Homo sapiens: one gene and its partners. The gene in region 1 interacts genetically with each later gene. Each region holds a gene or a part of one and is shown in the gene's direction. Other genes may lie near its edges. The genes, in order: FASN, ATP13A3, DPM1, SBDS, RASEF, EIF2D and DET1.

The links.
Region 2: changes in FASN (region 1) and ATP13A3 together harm fitness more than expected from each alone (negative genetic interaction), as found in Homo sapiens cells (one large-scale study listed by BioGRID).
Region 3: changes in FASN (region 1) and DPM1 together harm fitness more than expected from each alone (negative genetic interaction), as found in Homo sapiens cells (one large-scale study listed by BioGRID).
Region 4: changes in FASN (region 1) and SBDS together harm fitness less than expected from each alone (positive genetic interaction), as found in Homo sapiens cells (one large-scale study listed by BioGRID).
Region 5: changes in FASN (region 1) and RASEF together harm fitness more than expected from each alone (negative genetic interaction), as found in Homo sapiens cells (one large-scale study listed by BioGRID).
Region 6: changes in FASN (region 1) and EIF2D together harm fitness less than expected from each alone (positive genetic interaction), as found in Homo sapiens cells (one large-scale study listed by BioGRID).
Region 7: changes in FASN (region 1) and DET1 together harm fitness more than expected from each alone (negative genetic interaction), as found in Homo sapiens cells (one large-scale study listed by BioGRID).

Annotation. Positions count from the first base shown.
Region 1 is NC_000017.11:82,077,838-82,081,236, reverse strand, and holds the end of FASN (fatty acid synthase), read left to right. Parts: coding exon 1-73; intron 74-314; coding exon 315-545; intron 546-646; coding exon 647-867; intron 868-998; coding exon 999-1,097; intron 1,098-1,628; coding exon 1,629-1,880; intron 1,881-1,956; coding exon 1,957-2,094; 3' UTR 2,095-2,899; downstream 2,900-3,399. UniProt on the Homo sapiens protein: Fatty acid synthetase is a multifunctional enzyme that catalyzes the de novo biosynthesis of long-chain saturated fatty acids starting from acetyl-CoA and malonyl-CoA in the presence of NADPH.
Region 2 is NC_000003.12:194,431,503-194,435,002, reverse strand, and holds part of ATP13A3 (polyamine-transporting ATPase 13A3), read left to right. Parts: intron 1-1,106; coding exon 1,107-1,231; intron 1,232-3,110; coding exon 3,111-3,286; intron 3,287-3,500. UniProt on the Homo sapiens protein: ATP-driven pump involved in endocytosis-dependent polyamine transport. Uses ATP as an energy source to transfer polyamine precursor putrescine from the endosomal compartment to the cytosol.
Region 3 is NC_000020.11:50,945,033-50,948,532, reverse strand, and holds part of DPM1 (dolichol-phosphate mannosyltransferase subunit 1), read left to right. Parts: intron 1-2,609; coding exon 2,610-2,686; intron 2,687-2,770; coding exon 2,771-2,796; intron 2,797-3,398; exon of another isoform or gene 3,399-3,500. UniProt on the Homo sapiens protein: Transfers mannose from GDP-mannose to dolichol monophosphate to form dolichol phosphate mannose (Dol-P-Man) which is the mannosyl donor in pathways leading to N-glycosylation, glycosyl phosphatidylinositol membrane anchoring, and O-mannosylation of proteins; catalytic subunit of the dolichol-phosphate mannose (DPM) synthase complex.
Region 4 is NC_000007.14:66,992,787-66,997,025, reverse strand, and holds the start of SBDS (ribosome maturation protein SBDS), read left to right. Parts: upstream 1-1,439; 5' UTR 1,440-1,608; coding exon 1,609-1,736; intron 1,737-2,684; coding exon 2,685-2,814; intron 2,815-3,608; coding exon 3,609-3,809; intron 3,810-4,239. Other genes in the region: S-adenosyl-L-methionine-dependent tRNA 4-demethylwyosine synthase TYW1, read right to left, coding at 44-47. UniProt on the Homo sapiens protein: Required for the assembly of mature ribosomes and ribosome biogenesis.
Region 5 is NC_000009.12:83,000,643-83,004,142, reverse strand, and holds part of RASEF (ras and EF-hand domain-containing protein), read left to right. Parts: intron 1-3,012; coding exon 3,013-3,247; intron 3,248-3,500.
Region 6 is NC_000001.11:206,602,466-206,605,965, reverse strand, and holds part of EIF2D (eukaryotic translation initiation factor 2D), read left to right. Parts: intron 1-458; coding exon 459-566; intron 567-2,761; coding exon 2,762-3,015; intron 3,016-3,500. UniProt on the Homo sapiens protein: Translation initiation factor that is able to deliver tRNA to the P-site of the eukaryotic ribosome in a GTP-independent manner.
Region 7 is NC_000015.10:88,540,182-88,543,681, reverse strand, and holds part of DET1 (DET1 homolog), read left to right. Parts: intron 1-3,500. UniProt on the Homo sapiens protein: Component of the E3 ubiquitin ligase DCX DET1-COP1 complex, which is required for ubiquitination and subsequent degradation of target proteins. The complex is involved in JUN ubiquitination and degradation.

The DNA of each region.
Region 1 (3,399 bases):
TCCGTGCGCGAGGTGCGGCAACTCACGCTCCGGAAACTGCAGGAGCTGTCCTCAAAGGCGGATGAGGCCAGCGGTGCGTGTGGGTGGCCAGGCGGGAGTGGGGTCCCCGGGCCTCCCCAGCCCTTCCTCCTTGTTGTCTGGACCGTGTCCCGGCAGGCATACCGCCCTTCGTCACGGGTGCCATTCTGAGCGTTCCCACCCCGACTCCCACCTGACGTAGCACCGTGGGGACCTGCGTGCGTGTCTGTGTGTCCTTGCGTGGGTGCCAGGGCTCTGCACCCAGACCAGCCTGGCATCTGCCCCTGTCTTCACAGAGCTGGCATGCCCCACGCCCAAGGAGGATGGTCTGGCCCAGCAGCAGACTCAGCTGAACCTGCGCTCCCTGCTGGTGAACCCGGAGGGCCCCACCCTGATGCGGCTCAACTCCGTGCAGAGCTCGGAGCGGCCCCTGTTCCTGGTGCACCCAATCGAGGGCTCCACCACCGTGTTCCACAGCCTGGCCTCCCGGCTCAGCATCCCCACCTATGGCCTGCAGTGCACCCGAGGTACTCCCGGGCCCTCCTCTGGAAGCGGTGGTCAGTGCTGGCCATCACGGGGCCCGTGGCTGCCGCCTGCACATGCTGAGTGCCCGGCACTGCCATTGCAGCTGCGCCCCTTGACAGCATCCACAGCCTGGCTGCCTACTACATCGACTGCATCAGGCAGGTGCAGCCCGAGGGCCCCTACCGCGTGGCCGGCTACTCCTACGGGGCCTGCGTGGCCTTTGAAATGTGCTCCCAGCTGCAGGCCCAGCAGAGCCCAGCCCCCACCCACAACAGCCTCTTCCTGTTCGACGGCTCGCCCACCTACGTACTGGCCTACACCCAGGTGAGAGCCAGGCTGGTCCTAGAGGCCTACGGCAAACGTCTGGGCTCCCCACCTGTGCCCTGGCTTTGGGGGACCGTCGCTTAGGAGGCCCCGCCCCTTCCATCTGCTCAGCAGTCCCTCCTTCCTCTCAGAGCTACCGGGCAAAGCTGACCCCAGGCTGTGAGGCTGAGGCTGAGACGGAGGCCATATGCTTCTTCGTGCAGCAGTTCACGGACATGGAGCACAACAGGGTGGGTCCTGGACACCCCTGAGGCCGCAGGACCCAGAGTACTGGGCAGGAACGGAAGGGGGAAGGGAAGGATGGGATGGGACGCGAAGAGCGTTAAAGGCCCCCCAACTTCACCCCTTTAATAGCCGATCCCGGCCGGATGCGGTTGCTCATGCCTGTAATCCCGGCACTTTGGGAGGCTAAGGCGGGCAGATTACCTGAGGTCGGGAGTTCGAGACCAGCCTGACCAACGTGGAGAAACCCCTTCTCTACTAAAAATACAAAAATTAGCCAGGCATGGTGGCACTCACCTATAGTCCCACCTACTCGGGAGGAGAATCGCTTGAACCGGGTAGGTGGAGGTTGCGGAGGGAGGAGAATCGCTTGAACCGGGTAGGTGGAGGTTGCGGTGAGCTGAGATCGCCCCACTCCATCTAGCCTGGGTAACAAAAATGAAACTCGTCTCAAAAAAAAAAAGCCCACCCGCAGTGTAGCACAGGGCAGGCCGGTGCTGTGGGTGCTGCCAGCACCTGCTCAGAGCCCGACCCCACAGGTGCTGGAGGCGCTGCTGCCGCTGAAGGGCCTAGAGGAGCGTGTGGCAGCCGCCGTGGACCTGATCATCAAGAGCCACCAGGGCCTGGACCGCCAGGAGCTGAGCTTTGCGGCCCGGTCCTTCTACTACAAGCTGCGTGCCGCTGAGCAGTACACACCCAAGGCCAAGTACCATGGCAACGTGATGCTACTGCGCGCCAAGACGGGTGGCGCCTACGGCGAGGACCTGGGCGCGGACTACAACCTCTCCCAGGTGCGCAAGGGGCCTGACGGGAACGGGGACAGGGACAGGAGTGGGGTGGGACGGCAGCTGATCGCATCCCCTGCAGGTATGCGACGGGAAAGTATCCGTCCACGTCATCGAGGGTGACCACCGCACGCTGCTGGAGGGCAGCGGCCTGGAGTCCATCATCAGCATCATCCACAGCTCCCTGGCTGAGCCACGCGTGAGCGTGCGGGAGGGCTAGGCCCGTGCCCCCGCCTGCCACCGGAGGTCACTCCACCATCCCCACCCCACCCCACCCCACCCCCGCCATGCAACGGGATTGAAGGGTCCTGCCGGTGGGACCCTGTCCGGCCCAGTGCCACTGCCCCCCGAGGCTGCTAGATGTAGGTGTTAGGCATGTCCCACCCACCCGCCGCCTCCCACGGCACCTCGGGGACACCAGAGCTGCCGACTTGGAGACTCCTGGTCTGTGAAGAGCCGGTGGTGCCCGTGCCCGCAGGAACTGGGCTGGGCCTCGTGCGCCCGTGGGGTCTGCGCTTGGTCTTTCTGTGCTTGGATTTGCATATTTATTGCATTGCTGGTAGAGACCCCCAGGCCTGTCCACCCTGCCAAGACTCCTCAGGCAGCGTGTGGGTCCCGCACTCTGCCCCCATTTCCCCGATGTCCCCTGCGGGCGCGGGCAGCCACCCAAGCCTGCTGGCTGCGGCCCCCTCTCGGCCAGGCATTGGCTCAGCCCGCTGAGTGGGGGGTCGTGGGCCAGTCCCCGAGGAGCTGGGCCCCTGCACAGGCACACAGGGCCCGGCCACACCCAGCGGCCCCCCGCACAGCCACCCGTGGGGTGCTGCCCTTATGCCCGGCGCCGGGCACCAACTCCATGTTTGGTGTTTGTCTGTGTTTGTTTTTCAAGAAATGATTCAAATTGCTGCTTGGATTTTGAAATTTACTGTAACTGTCAGTGTACACGTCTGGACCCCGTTTCATTTTTACACCAATTTGGTAAAAATGCTGCTCTCAGCCTCCCACAATTAAACCGCATGTGATCTCCACCACCGTCCTTTCTTCCCTCCTCCCTGACCTGGCAGCTGCAAGCTCTCCAGCTCCACCCCACCCAGTCACGGGGCCGTGAAGGGGATGCCCTCTGTCCTCTGGTCCCCAGTTCCCACACACCCCTAGGCCATGTCCCAGAGCCGGGGCTGGGCCGGGGAGTGAGGAAGGAGCCCGCGTGGCAGCCCCGGGCTTCCCGGGAAAGCGCTGGGACTGGCGGGGGGGGGGGTACCGAGGCTCTGGCCAAGAAACACCACCAGTGAGAAACGTGTAGGAGGTACAGACACTGGGAAGTTGGCTTCAGCTGAGGAGAGGCCCCTCGTGGAGAATAGTATTTGCTTGAAGTCAGTGGATTGCAGGCATTCGCCCTGCCAAAGATGCCGTCACAGCCTCACCAAGACGGTGTCAATAGCGCCACTGGCTGGCCAGGTTGACCCAGAAGACTTGGGTTTAGGCAAAGGAGTGGAGGCTGGGAGGGAGCAAGGGACAGGGAGCCCTGGGC
Region 2 (3,500 bases), on another chromosome or scaffold:
CATTGAGAAAAAAATTTCTATGATATAATTCAGGTAGGTTGAGGTGTTTTTTGTTTGTTTTCTTTTTTTGTTTGTTTCTTTTGAGATAGGATCTCTCTTTGTTGCTTAGGCTAGAGTGCAGTGGAACAAACACTTCTCACTGCAGACTTGACCACCTGGGCCTTAAATGATCCTCACTCCTCAAGCCTTCCAAGTAGTGGGACTGCAGGCACATGTCATCATGCCCAGCTAATTGTTTTTTCATTTTTTGTAGAGACGGGGTCTCACTATGCTGCCCAGGCTGGCCTCAAACTCCTAGGTTCAAGCAATCCTCCTATTTCAGCCTCCCAAAGTGGTGGGATTACAGGCATGAGCTACAATGCCTGACCTGAGATTTCTTAAGAACGTAACTATCACTGAACAGACTTCATCTCTTTTATAGTGCTAAAGCACGTACTATTTTTGTGTGCATCTCTTTGGTTGCATGTCTGTTTCCCCACCCAAGTGTCTTGAGAGCAGAGATCATCCCTTTTTGTCTTTAACCTCCCAGTGACTAGCATAGTGCCTGCTGCATTCTTGATACTCAGTTATTTAAAGAATAGCATCTTGATAACTATATTAGTAATATTTTCAAAGACCCATCTCTGGGTCCCAAGTAGATCTCATTGTTGGATTGCTAATGGTTCTTGTGTCACATTTTCAGGATCAGTAATTGTTTTATAGAATTGATCTGAGACTTGATAATGAATCCACGAAAACTGTATTGAATGTGCTTGTGGCACAGTTTTTTCTTTTTCACTTAACATTTAAATTAGGATATGTTGTAGAGGGCAGTAAAGAATAGATTTATGCTTATTTTTGGATACTACACAAAATGAATATTCCTTAGTATTAGAATTGTTTAGTGTACAGTGACATACATTTCCAAATGATTATTATATTGAGATACTGAACTCTTGAACACACACGTGGTTTATTCAGCATATAAAATGTTTTCATTTATAGATATTTTAAACTGCATTATAACTTATAGACATTTTTAATTGTTTAGATATTTCAAGTTTGTGTACATAAGTTGCTTACTCAATTGACTAAACCATTATGTGTTAAAACTTCTTTTTCTGCAGAGATGCAATTGAGAACAACATGGATTTTATGGGATTAATTATAATGCAGAACAAATTAAAGCAAGAAACCCCTGCAGTACTTGAAGATTTGCATAAAGCCAACATTCGCACCGTCATGGTCACAGGTTAGACTTTATAAAAGAACACAGAAGCAAATGGAGTGTGACAGAGCTGAAGTTATATTATATTGAGGGATAATCAGTTATAAAATCATATTATATAGTCTATAGTGGTTTCAACCTAAGTTCTCTTTTAGCTCTGAATATTTTCCCAAGCGCAAGATAACTTTGTCATATTCTTTTTGAGGTCTAGCGAATCCTATTTATAGAAAGTGTAGTAGAATAGTAAAAGTACGGCCGGGCGCGGTGGCTCACGCCTGTAATCCCAGCACTTTGGGAGGCCGAGGCGGGTGGATCATGAGGTCAGGAGATTGAGACCATCCTGGCTAACAAGGTGAAACCCCGTCTCTACTAAAAATACAAAAAATTAGCCGGGAGCGGTGGCGGGTGCCTGTAGTCCCAGCTACTCGGGAGGCTGAGGCAGGAGAATGGCGTGAACCCGGGAAGCGGAGCTTGCAGTGAGCCGAGATTGCGCCACTGCAGTCCGCAGTCCGGCCTGGGCGACAGAGCGAGACTCCGTCTCAAAAAAAAAAAAAAAAAAAAAAGAATAGTAAAAGTACACTGTAAAAATTTAAACTTGACTCCTTTTTGTTTTCTCTCTTTATTCGTATATTTCTTATAGCACTTATTGTACCTTGTGTTATTTGTAGATTTGTTTTCTGTACTAGAATATAAGATTCTTGAGGGTTAGGAGTATATTTTACTCATGTTGGGGTCCTTTGCAACTTTTAGAACTGTCAGCTACATAGAAAATGATTAATAGATATTCGATAGCATGAAATGTTTATATGTAAGATATTGTTTATTACCCTAGCTTGAATTCTAGTGAAATAGCCTACTTTTTTTTTTCTAGTACATCTAAGGGATTCTCCTGATGTTACTATACTGTTGATAATATTAGATAACTCTTACTCATTAGCTGTGTGAAATTGTGGTAGCTCTGTTTTTTGTTTTTTTTTCTTAGCAGATAATCAGATTTAAGATACTTAATGGCACTTACGTGTTCAGTAAGACTAATATGGAGAAAGTCTGTATACATTTTTGTGTTTTAGACTCTTGAGATCTATCTAATAACATAATTTTACCGTATAACTCAAGGTAACTAAGTCTGTTAGCATTCCAGCCATTCTTAGTTCTTGCGTCTTCTTTGTCAAGACACTTTTCACCTGTTCCTCGTCCTCCTCTTTTATTTATTTATTTATTTTCCCCTTGCCAGAATATGGCTTTGTGTACCAAAGGTCATAGGAAGATATTCTTGGAAATAGTGTGTGGAAATTGAGGAAAGAAATATCTCGCTCTTCTGTTTTGGTAGCAGTGGGATCCACAAACCTTTGTCTGCTTCTCCTTAATAAGATCCTGTTCTTGCTGCTCTTCTTTCTTCTCATGACTGAGAAGTTGTCTCTCTTGTTTCTCGTTTACACCTGTTCTTATTACCTGTCTTACCTTTTTGTTTTGTATGATCTTGCTTTTGTAATTCATCATTTTCTATGATATGGTGCTGGTGTTCTTGCACAGACCACTAGTCACTTTGTAAAGTTATTTCGGTAAGTATTTATTGAGCCACCTGATCTGTGTGTAGCACCGTGCCAGGTATTGTGTAGATACAAATAGTGCATGACTGGAAAAGATTGAGAATTATATTTGGCTTTAAAAATTGTGGGTGAGATGTTTTCTTTAGCATATAACGTGCTTGCGTTATTTGAGGCTTCTTTTGATAAGTATGCTCCAATTTTGTTATTTTTAAACTGTAAGTGGAAGAACCATACATTATCGTTACTCTGCCAGCCCAGTCATGGAGACTGTAGTAGATTCTCAGCAAGTACATGTTTGATACGTTCACGTTTCCATTTTAATTTCAATACATTTAAAATATTTTGAAAATTAGGTGACAGTATGTTGACTGCTGTCTCTGTGGCCAGAGATTGTGGAATGATTCTACCTCAGGATAAAGTGATTATTGCTGAAGCATTACCTCCAAAGGATGGGAAAGTTGCCAAAATAAATTGGCATTATGCAGACTCCCTCACGCAGTGCAGTCATCCATCAGCAATTGACCCAGAGGTAAGGTCAAGATCGACTGTCCGTTTTAAAGTTTGTTGATTTAAATTTAGTCTGAAAAAATAAAAAAAGTGGTGCATTAAAACACAGTAAAGCAAAAACTAAATGAAAACAGAAGTCAGGGCTATTTTTTCAGAGATTATGTTTCATTAGGACTGGGACAGACCCAGGAATCTCAATGTTCAAATTTTGATATTTAGCTAAGATGAGAAGCATA
Region 3 (3,500 bases), on another chromosome or scaffold:
TAACTTCCTATGATGGTTTTTAATGATCTTAATGACATTTAAATGGTATAACTTGGGTCGCCTGTATAAGTCAAGACCCACTCAGGAAAACAGAACCACTGTAAGTCTTTCAGTGTAGGGAATTTAATACTGAGTCTCTGGTTACACCCCTGAAGGAGTTCCTGAGAAACCAAATGGAGCAGTGAGGCTACTAAGATTAGTAACAGCTGGAGGTCACTGCCACCCCTAGGGATGGAGCAACGGCAGGAAGAGATGTTAGAGCCCAAGAACCTGGGCTGCCCAGAGGGAGCTAGAATGATGGGGCAGGGGCTGCCTGGCAGGAGCTAGAACTGTGGGAAATTCCCAGTCAGAGGTAGGAGGGAGAGTAACAGAGGGAGGACCACTTAGACTTTTCCCTTTTCCCCTCCCTGCAGTCTTCCACCTGTACCTCCCAAAGCTGTTTGGCAGCCAGTTGACAAGAGAATCTGGAATATGTAGTTCACCCAATATAGCACAGAGTAGGGAAGGGCCAGAGAATGGGTCTGAGGGCAAATATCTTGGACCAGCATGCTGCAAACCTTGGAACATCCTTTAAGTTACAAGTTTAAAAAGTTACTCTTCATTTAAGGCTGGGCACAGTGGCTCACAAATGTAATCTTAGCACTTTGGGAGGCCGAGGTGGGCAGAGCACGAGGTCAAGAGATCGAGACCATCCTGGCCAACATGGTAAAACCCCATCCCTACTAAAAATACAAAAATTAGCTGGGCGTCGTGACGCGCATCTATAATCCCAGCTACTCGGGAGGCTGAGGCAGGAGAGTCGCTTGAACTCAGGAGGCAGAGGTTGCAATGAGCCGAGATCACACCACTGCACTCCAGCCTAGTGATAAAAACAGTTATTCTTTATTTTTAAAAAAGGAAGCTTTTCCAGCTTTTAAACATACAGCATTATTGAAAAGCTCATATGAGCTCAGTAATTCTGAGAGGAAACTCTGCCTTTATTTGTGCTAAAACTTAACATGAAGAAAGCACAATGCTTAACTGGAGTCTGCTATCTTGAAGACCATCAATTCCCAAGCATCAAATGTTCTCAGTATCTGAACCCAGAAGATTCTTTGGGATTCAAAAAAATCTGGAAACTGCCATGAAACCAAAAAGTGTAAATATTCACTCCTTTATCTTTCTGAGACAGTCTTACTCTGATCCCCAGGCTGGAGTGCAGTGGCACAATCTCGGCTCACTGCAACCCCTGCCTGCTGGGTTTGAGCCATTCTTGTGCCTCAGCCTCCCGAGTAGCTGGGATTACAGGCGTGTACCACCATGCCCGGCTAATTTTTGTTTGTTTGAGACGGAGTTTCGCTCTTCTTGCCCAGGCTGGGGTGCGATGACGCGATCTCGGCTCACCGCGATCTCTGCCTCCCGGGTTCAAGCGATTCTCCTGCCTCAGCCTCCCAGGTAGCTGGGATTGTAGGCATGCACCACCATGCCCAGCTAATTTTGTATTTTTGGTAGAGACGGGGTTTCTCCATGTTGGTCAGGCTGGTCTCGAATTCCCGACCTCAGATGATCCGCCTGCCTCGGCCTCCCAAAGTGCTGGGATTACAAGCGTGAGCCACTGCGCCTGGCCAATTTTTTGTATTTTTAGTAGAGATGAGGTTTTGCCATGTTGGTTAGGCTAGTCTCAAACTCCCTGACCTCCAGTGATCCACCCATCTCAGCCTCCCAAAGTGCTGGGATTACAGGCATGAGCCACCACACCCAGCCGATATTCACTTCTTAACAAAATAAGTTAGAAGAGTTCAGCCTTGCTCATAAGACACTTGTGAGGGGTCTGGACTAGAGAATGCAGGAATCCCCAAGTCCTGCTCCTAACAAGTTACCCTAGCCTGCCAAGTCCCTGTGGGACTTTGAGGCATGGAGCTGGCTGAGTAATTGTCACCTAGGCCTTTGGCCCCAAATACCAGAGCAAGGGTCTAGCGTACCAGGTTTACGGTGTAAAAGACAAGAAAAAGGGAATTGAAATGTTTTGGATGGAGAATCAATAGGACTTAATTACAGTTTAGAAGTTATGGTTAAAGGCAGGAAATCAAGAATCATCTCTAGACCTGTGGATGGAGCAGTTGGATAGTTGGTGCCTTTCCTGGAGAGGTGGCCTGTAAGAGAGAGGTAGAGAATTGGAAGATGATTTTGCAATGTTATCTTTGAGATTTCTGAAATACCCAAGTGGAGATATTAAGTAGGAAGCTGATTTGTAAATGTGGAGCTCATCAGTGTCTTAGGGGGATGCCAAGGAAACACCAGATGGGTTTTTAAAGCATGAGAATGTGATAATTGTGCTACATAATCTTAGACTTTTGAACTTATAAACTATTTCTTTGCTATACTGAAATAGAGGTATGATCTATTGTATTAAATTGACATCTGAATGGGGGTGTGTGGCCAGCTACCTTCTTGATTATATATGTAATATACATGAACTTATGTACTTAAGGTGAAAAATACCAATTTATTAATCTGACTTTTAGAGAACTAATGTGTGCTCTTCAGGTGCTAAACAATTTCCTTGATGTTCAAATGTATATGTAAAGATTTCTGTTGATTTTCTTGAATGGATCTACTTTCATTTTTAGGAACTGCATATATTCATGGAATGAAACATGCCACAGGAAACTACATCATTATTATGGATGCTGATCTCTCACACCATGTAAGTGGTATGTTTCTTTATTAGCTATTTATGGTAGTCTTAGCCTGTTTTACTGACTTACTGTTTATTCTTTTCAAATTTCAGCCAAAATTTATTCCTGAATTTATTAGGTAGGTACTATTTCTAATATTTGAAAGAAATATGACTGGAAACATTTATCTTACTGGTTTTGGGCTTATTTTCATTTTTTATTAATCAAAAATACACATACTATTTTTTCTATCAAAAATATAAACAAAGTTTGGGAAGTCAGGGTAGGAGGGTTGCTTGAAGTCAGCAGTTTGAGACCAGCCTGGGCAACAAAACAAGTACTTGTCTCTACAAAAAAAATAACAAAAATTAGCCAGACACAATGGCATGCGCCTGTAGTCCCAGCTACTCAGGCGGCTCAGGTGGGAGGATGACATGAGCCCAGGACTTCAAGGCTGCAGTGAGCTATGATCATGCCTCTCCATTCTAGTCTTGGTGACCCTGAGACAGAGTGAGACCTTGTCTCTAAAATATTTATCTGTATAGATAGTAGACACACACACACACACACACACACACACACACACACACAACACACATTTGAGACTAAATGATGTATTTTAGGAGTCCTGAGGAGCAAATCAACAGGTAGTTCGTTATCTGAATTCTTTCAGACCACAGAAAAAGGTGGAAGATGGCTTCTCTGATAAATGGAATTAAGCCTTGAGTTATTAGAATAAAACACCGTGAACAAAAGGGTTTATTCCAGGAATGCCAGAATGGCTCATTATTGGTAATCACTTATAATTCATTCATTATGTTAACAAAGTAGTGTGGTTAAGTC
Region 4 (4,239 bases), on another chromosome or scaffold:
CTCCCCTGCCGCCCCAGGGTCCTTGCCCGCCGAGTGCCCTTACCCATCCTCCTCAGAGCCGACAGGAGACTAGGATCTCGGACCTGGATAGCCCGATGATTCGCACTGGTACCGCGAGACGCACCGAGCTACCTCGCCGCGTTAGCGGCGTACCGAGTGCCTGCAGACCTGTGGGCAGCCATGACACTGCCAGGCCGGTCCTGATTGGTTCAGAGGACGAAGAGGTGGGCCCAGAGGAAAGCCCAGAGCTCCGGGAAAGGAAGCCAGTGCCCGGTGCGCTCTCGGCCCTGCTCCGATTGGCTCAGAGGGGAAAGGGGGCGTGCCCAGAAATAAGCACCTCCCAGAGTTCCAGGCGATGAAGGCGGAGCGCTTCCGCCTCCATTTGGATTGGCTCAGACTGGGAAAAGGCGGGCCCAGAGAGAAATGATTGGCATGGGAAAATTAAAAGAGGAAAGGAGCGGGGAGCGGGGGAAATGCTATGTGGGCCTGTTTGGATCTTAACTGAAATAAACCGACTGTAGAAAGGCATTATTTTTGGGAAACCCGAGGATGGACTCGCTATTAGATGATATTAAGGAATTGTAGTTAATCTCGTCGCGTGTATCTGTTAAGGGCTATAGGCTGAAGTATTTAATGCTGAAACCATATGATGGTTTCTTTAAAATACCCCCAACCGGCCGGGCGCTGTGACTCAAACCTGTAATCCCAGCACTTGGGAAGCCGAAGCGGGAGGATCGCTTGAGCCCAGGAGTTCGAGACCAGCCTGAGCAACATAGTGAGACCTCGTCTGTACAAAAAATTTTTTTTAATTATTTATTTAATTAAATTAGCTTGGCGTGGCCGCTCACACCTGTAGTCCCAGCTACTTGGGAAGCTAACGCTGGAAGATCGCTCGAACCCAGGAGGTCGAAGCTGCAGTGGGGCCATGACCCTGCCACTGCACTCCAGCCTGGGTGACAGAGTGAGACTGACTTAAAAAAAAAACTGTAAATAAAAAAGCAACAAAAAAATGAAAAAAGAATAAAACAAGGATGGCAAAATGTTGATAGCGGGGTGATGGGTACATAGAAGGTTCATTACACTTTTTTGTCTACATTTTATGTTAAAATATTTCTATTATAAAAGGGTGAGTAAATAAAAATATTTATTATAAAATAATTCTATTATAAAAAATATTTATATTATAAAGTGGGTCTGGCCCTTGAATTCCGCGGAACGAGGTGGTGCCAACGCTGTGTTTTAACCCGGTCACTAAACATCCGCGAGCATCCTGTCAGAGCTCTCAGCTCATTGGCGAAAGTAAATACGCCAAGGAAAAGCACCTCCCTTTTTGGGCGTGGAAAGATGGCGTAAAAAGCCACAATACGCAGGCGTCATCGCTCACTTTTCCCCTCCCGGCTTCTGCTCCACCTGACGCCTGCGCAGTAAGTAAGCCTGCCAGACACACTGTGACGGCTGCCTGAAGCTAGTGAGTCGCGGCGCCGCGCACTGGTGGTTGGGTCAGTGCCGCGCGCCGATCGGTCGTTACCGCGAGGCGCTGGTGGCCTTCAGGCTGGACGGCGCGGGTCAGCCCTGGTTCGCCGGCTTCTGGGTCTTTGAACAGCCGCGATGTCGATCTTCACCCCCACCAACCAGATCCGCCTAACCAATGTGGCCGTGGTACGGATGAAGCGTGCCGGGAAGCGCTTCGAAATCGCCTGCTACAAAAACAAGGTCGTCGGCTGGCGGAGCGGCGTGTGAGTAGCCCCCTCCCTCGGGCCTGGGCCTGGGCCTGAGCCGTCACCTCCGAGGCGGCCTGTCTCTGCCCAAGTCGAGTGAATGGGCCAGGCTGGGGTGTTGGCCGGGGAGGAAATGGAACATTCCTGCTGTGAGCATGAGACGTCGCTGTCCGAGCTTGGCGCCTAAGCCAAGGGTTTCTTCTTTATTTGGTTGGTTCGGATTGGGTTGTTGGTTTGGGGTTTTGTTTTGTTGGTGTCATAAAAGCTGCAGCCAAGAAATCTCGTAATTGTGGTCCTTTTCCTAGAATAATGATGGCTGAGAACCTAGTCTTACGAATACTGTCATAGTTGTGGGTACATCTGGTGTCATAGATCTCAGTAGCCCTAGCAGTTTAAAGTGCGTAGTGTCTTCACTGCTGCCATCTAGGGACTGGCATTCCGTGGCAGCAGCTGTCTGCACCCCACCCCACCCTTGTGTTTCTTACGTCCTCCCATGACATTTTTCTCCAGTGAGCAAATGGTAAGGCAAATACGGTTCTGAGTTTTGAAAATGTTCCCTCAGGCCGATGCGGGCAGTTCACTTGAGGCCAGGAGTTCGAGGCCAGCCTGGCCAACATGAAACCCCATCTCTACTAAAAATACAAAGTTAGCCGGGTGTGGTGGCGCATGCCTGTAATCCCAGTTACTCAGGAGGCTGAGGCGGGAGAATCACTTGAACCCGGGAGGCTGAGGTTACAGTGACCCGAGATCGCGCCATTGCACTCCAGCCTGGGCAAAAACAGTGAAATTCCATCTAGGGGCGGGGGTTGGGGGGTAAGAAAAAGAAAACTGCCCTCTACACTAAAGGTCATCAGGGGGATTTGTTGTGTCTTGCCGTTCATGTTGTTGCCATCTCGTATTTAAATGTAAATGCATGTCCAAGTTTCAAGTATATTCACATAGGACTTTCTCTCCTGCCCTCACAAGGGAAAAAGACCTCGATGAAGTTCTGCAGACCCACTCAGTGTTTGTAAATGTTTCTAAAGGTCAGGTTGCCAAAAAGGAAGATCTCATCAGTGCGTTTGGAACAGATGACCAAACTGAAATCTGTAAGCAGGTGGGTAACAGCTGCAGCATAGCTAACCCTAATAACCATTTATAACGTATTTGTAGATATATTAAACATTAAAGGCTGTTTTTCTGGAGGAAAGACTAACCAAGCAATAATGTGAACTGCACAGTGTCACTTCTAATAATAAAGAACTTGGTGGTTTTGTTTGTTTTTTGTGGTTTTTTTTTTTTTTTTTTTGCCAAAACCTCCTGAAATCAGATTTTCTACTAAATTACCTCATTTTTCTATAAATTGCCCCATTTATAGAATGTGGTATACCTGAAAACTGAATTTGTTTTCAAGTATTTCATCTTTCAGATCCTTTTTTTTTTGGGTGGGGGGACAGAGTCTTGCTCTGTTGCCCAGGCTGGAGTGCAGTGCACTTCACTGCACTCAGCTCACTGCAACCTCTGCCTCCTGGATTCAAGCGATTCTCTTGCCTCAGCTTCCAGGGTAGCTGGGATTACAGGTGCCCACCACCCTGCCTGGCTAATTTTTGGATTTTTAGTAGAGATGGGGTTTCACCATGTTGGCCAGGTTGGTCTCAAACTCCTGACCTTGGGTGATATGCCCGCCTTAGCCACCCAAAGTGCTGGGATTACAGATGTGAGCCACTGAGCCCAGCCAAAAGATTCTTGCATCTTTTGGGCAAAGCTCAAACCATTACTTACATATTGATAGCTGGAGAGGATGAAATTTAATTTTCTCTCCATCCAGTTACTCATTTTTTATGGTTAGTTAATAAATAGTGTGTGATAGAGAAAGATAGTGATTTCTTAAATGTGTTGGCATTTTTTTAGATTTTGACTAAAGGAGAAGTTCAAGTATCAGATAAAGAAAGACACACACAACTGGAGCAGATGTTTAGGGACATTGCAACTATTGTGGCAGACAAATGTGTGAATCCTGAAACAAAGAGACCATACACCGTGATCCTTATTGAGAGAGCCATGAAGGACATCCACTATTCGGTGAAAACCAACAAGAGTACAAAACAGCAGGTGAGTGGTTTCTCATGTCATCAAAATATAGCCATGGAAATCAGTTTTCTCTGAAGAAATCATTAAAATAATGGGTCTGGGGCCAGGCACAATGGTTCATGCCTGTAATCCTAGCACTTTGGGAGCCAAGATGGGAGGATTGCTTGAGGCCTGGAAACAGCCTGGGAAACATAGGGACGCCCCATCTCTAAATTTTTTTTTTTTTTTTTTGAGACAGAGTCTTACTCTATTGCCCAGGCTGGAGTGCAGTAGTATGATCTCGGCTCACTACAATCTCCACCTCCCGCGTTCAAGCAAGTCTCCTGCCTCAGCCTCCTGAGTAGCTGGGATTATAGGCACGTGCCACCACACTCAGCTAATTTTGTATTTTTAGTAGAGTTGAGGTTTCACCATGTTGGCCAGGCTGGTCTTGAACTCCTGACCCTAGGTG
Region 5 (3,500 bases), on another chromosome or scaffold:
CATGATCTGTAAATATTTAATAGCTCAGCATAATATTATATGAGCTATGTTGCAGAAAAGGGAAACTCTCAAAGCAAATATAAATATCACTAGTAGATCCTTGTAAAATAGCTACTGTATTGAAGGAGTCACAGAGGCTTGCCAAAAGTTAGAATTTAGCCTTGTGTTTAATCAAATGAACTGAAATATTAGGCCTTTTATTACTTGAGACCTAGTAATCACTTAGAGATTACATGAGTGTATGTGTATGTTTATACACATATGTCCAGTGTTGCTAGTTAATTTAGTAATATGTCAAAAATTTGAAATTAGAAGTGAAAGCATAAACAAAAAGTTTCCGACTCTCTATTTCTTTGTGACTTTCAGATTCACGTTCATCCCCTTTTCATTTGGGTACTTTTGATAAAAAGAATAATGTACTTAACATCCTGGTGTTAGAAATGGTCAGGTTGCCATTTAGGAAGACCTGTTACGAAGGCTTATTGGTGATCATTTCTAAGAAAATTGTATCAGGTTTAAGTGGTTTCTACTGTTCACTGATTAGCTCAATAAAAAAATTTAATGGCTTGATTTATAGATGGCTGACTATTCTGTTATTGAGAAATAATCGATTTTTAAAAATGTGTAGGTGTGATGTCATTTTTGACTAATATTTAAAACTGATTCTAAGCAAATTGGGGGGAAAGGTATACAACTGAAAAGTATTTCAGAAATTTCACCATGATTCATTTTGGAAAGATTAGACACCATGAAAGCCTCATAAGAACTGGAGTAGAGCTCATCAACGAAAGATTCTAGGGGACAAAGTCATCACGTCCCCAGCATGTTTGAGTGACGTAGCACTCATGTGCCTACCTCCTTGAGCTGTAATGAGAGGCCACCGTAGCCTCAACACCATGCCCCTTCTGGGTGTGTGTGGGGGGGTGATTATTTTGACATAAGAAGATAACATTTTATTTTCTTTTTGATGCTAATATAAAAATGTAATAAAAGCATGTTGTACATCAGATTAGATGTACAATAAAATTGTATTGTTTTTATAGCTTTATTTGGTTTTAACTTTAAAATTTATTTTGGCTTTGTTCTTCGCAAGAACTCTAACAAAGATTTAATTTGTTTTGTACTTTTACATAGTTAATTATAATGAAATTATTGAGTGTTGGCAAGATGGTTGACTTTGAAAAGGATATGCAGTTCAATTGAGTTTGAGAAAGTTTGACCTGTACCTATGTTTTTATTTTTACTTTTAAAAATTTTCAACTTTTATTTAAGATTCAGGGGGTACATGCACAGATTTGTTACATGAGTATATTGCATAATGCTGAGTGTGCCTATATTTTCAATTTAGAGTCTAGATGTTTATTCAGGTGAATTCTTAATTCAGAACTTGATGTTTTCTTTGCTCCTTGTCAAAATACAAGTAGGCTTAAAATAAATCATAACCAGTAATGAAGACATGGAACTGAAGTAGTTTGTAGTATATTATAATTAGAATGGTTTTCTTATGTGCTTTATAGATGGACCTAAAATCAGTTTCAGAAGGAGAGTTTTATAAATAATGCAATAATATATTGGCAATATATTTTCATTGTTATTGTTATTAATAGTATATATTAACAATAAATAAATATTAAAATATATTAACAATATATTTTATTGTTATTGTTATTAACAGTATATTAACACACACACGCACACATGCACACACGTAGCTAGCTATATAGATTGAGTTATGATATAAAATTCTTGGCTCAGAATAAAGACTTTGTAATTGAGCAGTATTGAGAGAGAGAAAGTTAGTTACATCATCTTTTTAATTAATTTTAAACATTTGCTAATGGCATAAAAATACTTTTGACTTCTCAGATTTACATGGCTCACACTTAATTATATTAAGCTTACCTTCTCTCATCTAAGCATATCCACTTCTTGTTTCTCATATCTGAAGACCTATGTATCGTGCCCATTCTCCCTTTCCAATGATTCGTGTAAGCAAATTGGTAGGGTGGTGCCCAGGGTGTAGTGGGTGGTAAATAAGTCATAACCATAATTGGTAAACTTAGATTCTTATGGAAATCAAATGGAAAAGCTAAAGTAAACAGGAATGTATACAGTTTCTTATGATTCTCTTATTTGATGTGAATTTCTCCCTCACTTATAAAATCTTCAGAGTTTCACTAATGGTAAGATCTATAGAAGTCAGGAGTTCCAGCCTTTATCTGAGGCACCTCCCTCCCTATGAAACGTCTCCCAGAGGGGTGTTTCCAGACGGTGTGTCAACATTTAGTGGCAGAAAACTTACGTGTCAAATCATACATTCCAGTCATGTTTCTAATTGCTTATTTTTATCAGATGTTTCTAATTGCCTATCATTTTTTGCCATGTTGATTAGAAATATGACACCCAGAAAAGCTTATCTTATTTTGTCTTGTGCAACCTGAGAGGATGTGGTCTTCTTCATGTATCAGCTCTTCAAGTATTTGAAGAGAGAAACCATTAAGAGTTAAGTTGAGTACACTGAATCTTATTTTTCAGCTCTGAGGGTCTTGAGTCTGACATTGTGGTTGCCTTTTCTGTTTGGGCTCTCAGCAGCCCTTTTAAGTAGAGATGTTATCCAGAAATGGACACAATGTTCAGAATATGGTCTGACCACCTTAGAGTAAAAAAGCTCATATATTCTGCATACATTTTTATGAATACAACTTGCGATTGTGTTTATGTCTTAGGTACTCTAATTCTTTTTGTATCAGGAAATAAAGAACATTATTTTTTTAATGGCTTTGTTTGTTAAGTGTTTGATGTAAGGTTCTTTATCTTAACTGATTGCTGCATAGAATGAACTGATGGTGCTTTGAGCATTTTATTTCCCCTAATGCCTAATCATGAAATAACACTGCGGCTCTTAGCCACAGTCGGCCTACTTGATTCCATCTAATGGCATGTGGTCTATTGCCTGTATGTTCTTGAGCATTTCCAGCCCTCAGGTAAATTGGTCTTCCCCTTTATTACCAGGTCATCCCGCTCTTCCTATGTGGATGAGGACTGTGACTCCCTGGCCCTCTGTGATCCTCTGCAGAGGACAAATTGTGAAGTTGACAGCCTGCCTGAAAGCTGCTTCGACAGCGGCTTGTCTACCTTGAGAGATCCCAATGAGTATGACTCAGAAGTGGAATACAAGCACCAGAGGGGATTTCAGAGGTCACACGGGGTGCAGGAGAGCTTTGGAGGTGATGCTTCAGACACAGATGTAAGCCCCAGAAACCACTGCTCTCCTAGGCCTTCTACGTGATTGAAATCTGTCACCTTATTTGCCTTCTATCTGTCATGGAAATCTGTTTTAAAGGTCATAGATGTAAAGCATAGTTAGTAAAATGCTTTTTCCTCCACAGAGTTAGGGAGAAATTCTCATAGATTGCCATTCAGTGTCACTCTATTCCCTAATATTAATAGCATTGACTGTTGATTTAGCTGCATAGTTTTCTTCTTTTTAATCCATAATG
Region 6 (3,500 bases), on another chromosome or scaffold:
GTCTCTTCTCTCTTCCCTATGGCATCCCTCAGCCTAATTTATGATATATGAATTGCCTCCCCTTTAAACTTCCTTATGGGATGGCTATGACTTCTTTAAGGTAGAGGAGATAATTTATATTTTTGAAATTAATGAAAGGGAACATTAAATATCCTTCCAAGACCCACCTGGAGATTTAATTCACAGCAGGAATAAAACAAAGGCAGTGATAAAGTCAATAGAGGAGTTACTAATACAGAAGTTTAGTGTTTAGTTTAATATTTGGTCAAGGGATTTTTGAAAGTAATATTTGTACATAATCTGAAGAAAACTGAGAGTGGACTGAGTTTGGTTTTATGATACAAGACCTTCGAATTGGTAACCTTGGTATTTTTACCACATGTGTCAGAAGATGATCCTAACATGTGCCCTTCCCATAGATTTTCCATGACCCTGGTCTCTGGCTTCCTTCTTCTTAGAGCCCCTGTAGCCATTGGAGTTGCAGCCATGTCCACAGCTGAGATGCTCACGTCAGGCCTGAAGGGAAGGGGCTTCTCTGTGCTCCACACTTACCAGGACCACTTGTGGTGGGTACAGAGTTTCTTCTGTTTTACAGAGAACCGGGGCAGCTGGGGAGAGGATGGGGCCTGTGATTCAGGAGTGAGAGTTTTGGTCCTAGCCATGTCTTTAAGCAAGTTGCTAAGCCCAGACTTTTATTTCCTTACAAATATAAAGAAAATATTTTTTTCCCCTGTTTGGACAAGTAATGAGAGAGAACTTTATTTTCTAAGTGAATTATAGAATCTTAGACCCAAAGGAAGACCTTAGGGATCATCTGCTCTGCCTCTCAGTACAGTGATACTCGTTTTTTTATAGCCCTGGTCAATCTGGCCCTAGCTGCGATGCACATTTTAGACATCATGTGACCCCATGATGAGTGCTTCTGAATCCTAATCACTGCAGGGTAGACCTTTAGACTCCAGGATTATAACCTGATTACTTTTATGTTATTCAGATTTCACATTCCAGACTCCTCCTCCTCATGAAAGTAACGCATTCTGACTGTAAAGGTTGCATTCTTGAGACGCGTACCTGTTCATTTTCTGGTTATTTTCTTGTCATTTTAGCAAAACAGTAAGCAGTGATTTTCTCAAAGCACACATTTAGCCAAGTATTGTGGCCTGTTGGTATAGATTCATTCTTATATTTTCCAGCCCAGTCTTGGAATTATTAATTTTTTTTTTTTTTTTTTTTGAGATGGAGTCTCGCTCTGTCGCCCAGGTTGGAGTGCAGTGGCGTGATCTCAGCTCACTGCAAGCTCCACCTCCCGGTTCACTCCATTCTCCTGCCTCAGCCTCCTGAGTAGCTGGGACCACAGGTACCTCCCACCACGCCCGGCTAATTTTTTGTATTTTTAGTAGAGACGGGGTTTCACCATGTTAGCCAGGATGGTCTCGATCCATTGACCTTGTGATCCACCCACCTCGGCCTCCCAAAGTGCTGGGATTACAGGTGTGAGCCACTGCGCCCAGCCTTTTTTTTTGAGATGGAGTTTTGCTCTTGTTGCCCAGGCTGGAGTGCAGTGGCGCAATCTCAGCTCACTGCAACCTCTGCCTCTCGGTTCAAGTGATTCTCCTACCTCAGCCTCCCGAGTAGCTGGGATTACAGGCTTGTGCCCAAAACATCCGGCTAATTTTTTTGTTTTTAGTAGAGACAGGGTTTCACCGTGTTGGCCAGGCTAGTCTCGAACTCCTAACCTCACGTGATCTGCCCATCTAGGCCTCCCAAAGTGCTGAGATTACAGGCGTGAGCCACCGCTCCCCGCCGGACTTACTGATTTTACAAGTACTTGCCAAGTCCTCCTTTGCTGGTACAAGCTCATTTTTGCCTGTTTTTAGATATTTGAGGGCTGATGACTGATGTTCTCCTAGCACCTTGTTGTTTAACTATCAGTCTGGGCAACAGCAATCAAGGTCAGGTTGTCTAAGTTGTTTTAGCAGCAGCTGCTTTGGTTCTCTCGCTGCACCTTGAAAAAAATATTTATGGTATTTACCTGATCAGAATAGCCTAAACATACCCTTTGGCTTTACTGTGAACAACACTGAGAAGCCTTGCCGTAACTATTAGTTAAAACTTAGTTTGATTTGCATAATGTTGGCTAAGATAAAGTTTTTTACTGCTTTGTGTGCTTTGCTATGTGGCATCGCCTGTTTTCCTGTCTTCCTAAGGCTTAGTGGCATAAAACCATGGCAATCTCTGCTTTCCACGTTAGACTGCATTTGATGTAACACAGAAGCCACTGATTTTGCAGTCCTTGAGCAGTCCAGGTGTTTGTGTTTTATTACATATGCTGAGCCGTGGGTTTGCATTTCACCAAACAGATATTACAGATGCATTCGCGATCTTAATGTTCATATTTAATTCAAATTGGTTTTGTTATTAACTCAGATGAAGGGAACATTTTTGGGAGTTTATCTTAAACTCCTTTTTCTTTAATCTTTCTCAGTCTTGGGATGTCTATTAATAGTATTATTCTTTTGGGATAGGGAGGAGACAAGATTTATTCTCCCCATTTCAGAGATGAAGAAACTGAGGCATGGAACTTTTAGGGGCCCAGAATTGAAAGTACGCTTGAGATGAGGGCACAGGCTCTCTGCCCCCTCCTGGCCACTCCTGCCTGTTGGCTCTCTGCTGTCTCTGACCTCACTGCTGACTCCTCTGTGGCCAGGGCTGGAGAGTATTGGAGCTGCTGCTTGATGTTTCTGACATGAGATTTTTCCAGGCGGTCTGGAAACAAGTCCTCTCCACCTTCCATTGCTCCACTGGCCCTGGATTCAGCAGATCTCAGTGAAGAGAAGGGGTCTGTCCAGATGGACTCCACCCTGCAGGGAGACATGAGGCACATGACCCTGGAGGGGGAAGAGGAGAATGGGGAGGTTCACCAGGCACGTGAAGACAAGTCTCTCTCAGAAGCCCCAGAAGACACCAGCACCAGGGGCCTGAACCAAGACTCCACAGATAGCAAAACGCTTCAAGGTATAACTCTAGGAGGAGAAGAGCCCATCTCCCCACCTCTCAATTTAGGAGCCTGACGAACTCCACTCCACTGCTGACTAGAATGGCCCTTAAGCTTCCGGGGGAGGAGGGGAAGGTCCTTATTTTCTGTGAGGGTGGCGCAGCAGCCCTTTCACATCTTGTTTTTGAATCCTTTCCACATAAGTCACGTCTTCCTGGGAGCTAATCTGCCCTGGCATTTGCCTGTCTTCAGCTACAAAGCCCTCCAAGGTTTCTTCTGGCTCAACTTCTCTGGGTGAACACTCCTAGCTTGGTGGGACTTTGTGGCTTGACTCCTTCTCTGGGGTCAACCCTCTTTAAAGGCTCAGTGCTCAAGAGAGGCTGGGAGCTTTGGTACCTGGGAATGGGTTCCTTTCAGAGCCAAGTGGGTGAGGTAGGGATGAAGCTGGGGGTCGTTTTCTTGTACCAGGTGTTCTGTATCCCTCAGGAAGGATGTGGCTCTTGTC
Region 7 (3,500 bases), on another chromosome or scaffold:
AGCTTTTTGCACTGAGGTGTTTGCTGGTAAAGCCTGAGCCCACAACACATCTGTCTCCGTGGTAACAGCTGCACCGGCCTTTCATACTCGCTGCTTGAGAAAGCTGCTACCATCTGTGAACACAGCGGCGTCCGCCTTCTCTAGGGCCACATCTTGAAGATCAGGTCGGCCAGTTTCGGTAGTTTCTAACAGTTCCTTACAGTCTTGGATAGTAGCTGGATTTAAACACCATGTGGGAGAGAAAGTCAAACGAGGCTGATTCAACAACTCTGATATTGTAAAATGCAAGCATCTGACATCCATTTACCTGAAGCACTTTGTAGTAAAGTCTCTACAGCATGAGGAGCTGTAAGGGTTAAATCCTGGCCCAGAATTAACTTATCAGTTTCTTGGACTAGGCTTGCTCTAGCTGCTACTTGGCCATCCAGAGGCCACAGGATCCAGCCTCTTAGATAAATAAGCCATTGGGTGTCTCCAAGGTCTTAAAGTCTGAGTAAGCACCCCCTTAGCAATTCCCTGGCTCTCATGGACAAACAGATGAAAAGGCTTTGAGGTATCTGGGAGGCCTAAAGCAGGGGCTTCAGTTAAAGTCTTTTTCAGATTTTGAAAAGCCTGTTCTTCGGTGTCTGTCCAAATCAATGGGCCATTACCTCTTATAGCAGTATACAAGGGCTTTGCAATCTCCGCAAACCCCAATATCCAGAGATGACAGTATCTCACGGCCCTGTCATTCAGGCTCTTCTGTTGCAGGCAGGGTGAGAACTTTTTGTTTTCTGACTTTTCTTGTGGCAGTAGTGGGCATTCCTTTTTCCAGTGCCTAGTCTGCTTGCAATAGGCACATTGGTCTTTTCCTAGAGAGGCCTGTTCACCTCTTTTACTTTTCTGGTGGGAACCCAAGGTTCCTTGGCCATTTTTTCTGGAATGGGGGCCTTTCCTTTCTGCCCTCTTGGATAGCCATTAGTAAGATTTTTGCTTGTCTTTTATAGGCTTTATCAGCGGCCTTTTCAGCTGCCTGTGTTGCTTGTTTCTGTTTTCATACTCTCGATTGTCAAAAACCTTCTGGGCTATTTCTAAAAGCTGACTGTTATTTATCCCAGTAAATCCTTTCAGTTTCTGGAGCTTTCTCTTAATGTCCAGGGCTGCCTGAGCCTCAAATGCCAAATTAAGAGCGTGGCTATTTTCGGGAGCCACCGGGTCAAAAGGAGTATAAATGCGATAAGCCTCCTGGAGACATTCTAAAAACGCTCCTGGTGACTCATCAGGCCCCTGGACAACTTCAGTTGTCTTAGACAAGTTTATGGGCTTCTGAGTGGCTCCTTTAATATCCGTGAGGAGATACCAGTGAAAATCGTCCAAGGCTCTCCTTCCACCTGAGGAATTTGGGTCCCAATTAGGCCGGGTGGAGGGAATGACCTCCTCCAGGAGGTCTCTAGCTTCCTCCTCAGGCCTACCGGTTAATGCAAGGAAGTGTTTTCTGGCCTCTCTTCAGATGCGCTCCCTCTCCTCAGAGGTAAAGAGAGTTAAAAGGAGCTGTTGGCTGTCATCCTAGGTGGGTCGATGGGTCTGGAGCATGGACTCCATCAGTGAGGTCAAAGCCTGAGGCTTTTCAGAGAAGGGAGGATTATGGGTTTTCCAGTTATACAAGTCAGAAGTAGAAAAAGGGACATAAAACAGGAAGGGGGCTGAGCGCTCATCACCTGGAGGAACTTGTGCCTCTCTCAGTGGTAGTAGAGGGGCTGCTTCCTCCCAGCGCGGTCACAGCCGGGAGGCAATTGGGCGGTGAGCCCACAGGGGACGTCTCCTCGAAGAGACATGTCCTCCCTTCTTCAGAGGGAGGCAAAACAGGGGGAGCCGAACTGGCTGAGGGTCGAGGTGAAAACACGGCCTGGTTCAGGAGGACTTTGGAGGTGGAATTGTGAATGGCACATGAACGGAGCCATGGAGGAGGATTTCTAATCAAACTTAACCATTGATTGATATAGGGAAACTGATCAGGGTGGCCAGGAGTTCCAGTAACAACCCGCCACACGGCTTGAACAATTGTAGGATTCAATGATCCTTTAGAGGGCCACCCAACTCCAAACCTTGGCCATTCTACTTCACAGAGTGTCCGGAGCTTGCCTTTTTAAAGGCAGACTCCGTAATTCTCTGAAAAACCAAGATGTAGGGGTGGGTTGCCCCTACACACCTGTGGGTGTTTCTCGTAAGGTGGGACGAGAGATTTGGAAAAGAAAAAGACACAGAGACAAAGTATAGAGAAAGAAATAAGGGGACCCGGGGAACCAGCGTTCAGCATATGGAGGATCCCGCCAGCCTCTGAGTTCCCTTAGTATTTATTGATCATCTGTGGGTGTTTCTCAAAGAGGAGGATGTGTCAGGGTCACAAGACAATTGTGCGGAGAGGGTCAGCAGACAAACACGTGAACAAAGGTCTTTGCATCATAGACAATGTAAAGGATTAAGTGCTGTGCTTTTAGATATGCATACACATAAACATCTCAATGCTTTACAAAGCAGTATTGCTGCCCGCAGGTCCCACCTCCAGCCCTAAGGCGGTTTTTCCCTATCTCAGTAGATGGAGCATACAATCGGGTTTTATACCGAGACATTCCATTGCCCAGGGACAGGCAGGAGACAGATGCCTTCCTCTTGTCTCAACTGCAAGAGGCATTCCTTCCCCTTTTACTAATCCTCCTCAGCACAGACCCTTTATGGGTGTCGGGCTGGGGGACGGTCAGGTCTTTCCCTTCCCACGAGGCCATATTTCAGACTATCACATGGGGAGAAACCTTGGACAATACCTGGCTTTCCTAGGCAGAGGTCCCTGCGGCCTTCCACAGTTTTTGTGTCCCTGGGTACTTGAGATTAGGGAGTGGTGATGACTCTTAAGGAGCATGCTGCCCTCAAGCATCTGTTTAACAAAGCACATCTTGCACCGCCCTTAATCCATTCAACTCTGAGTTGACACAGCACATGTTTCAGAGAGCACGGGGTTGGGGCTAAGGTCATAGATTAACAGAATCTCAAGGCAGAAGAATTTTTCTTAGTACATAACAAAATGGAGTCTCCTATGTCTACTTCTTTCTACACAGACACAGTAACAATCTGATCTCTCTTGCTTTTCCCCACACCAAGAGAAAAATTTTCCAGCATACATTGGAGGGGGCTCCAACACTTGCAAGGCTGGGAGGAAGTGTTTCCCATTTTTTTTTTTTTTTAGAAGGCAATTTAACAGAATTTGAGCAGAGGTATCAGATCCAACATGGACAGAGAAACTCACTCCCTGGGGGGCTGGAGTATCAGAAAAACAGAATTAACATAACCAGAAAGAACAGAAAAATCACAACAGCTAATACCACTTGCCACATTGCTGTAGCTTTAAGATTGAGGGAGGGGGACTAGAGGCCAGCCTGAGGTCTCCTGGGTCAGTTGGATCTAGGCGTTCTCCCTCTTCTTCTAGATCTGTACCCTAAATACCTTTGGTGTCTCCATGACTCAAA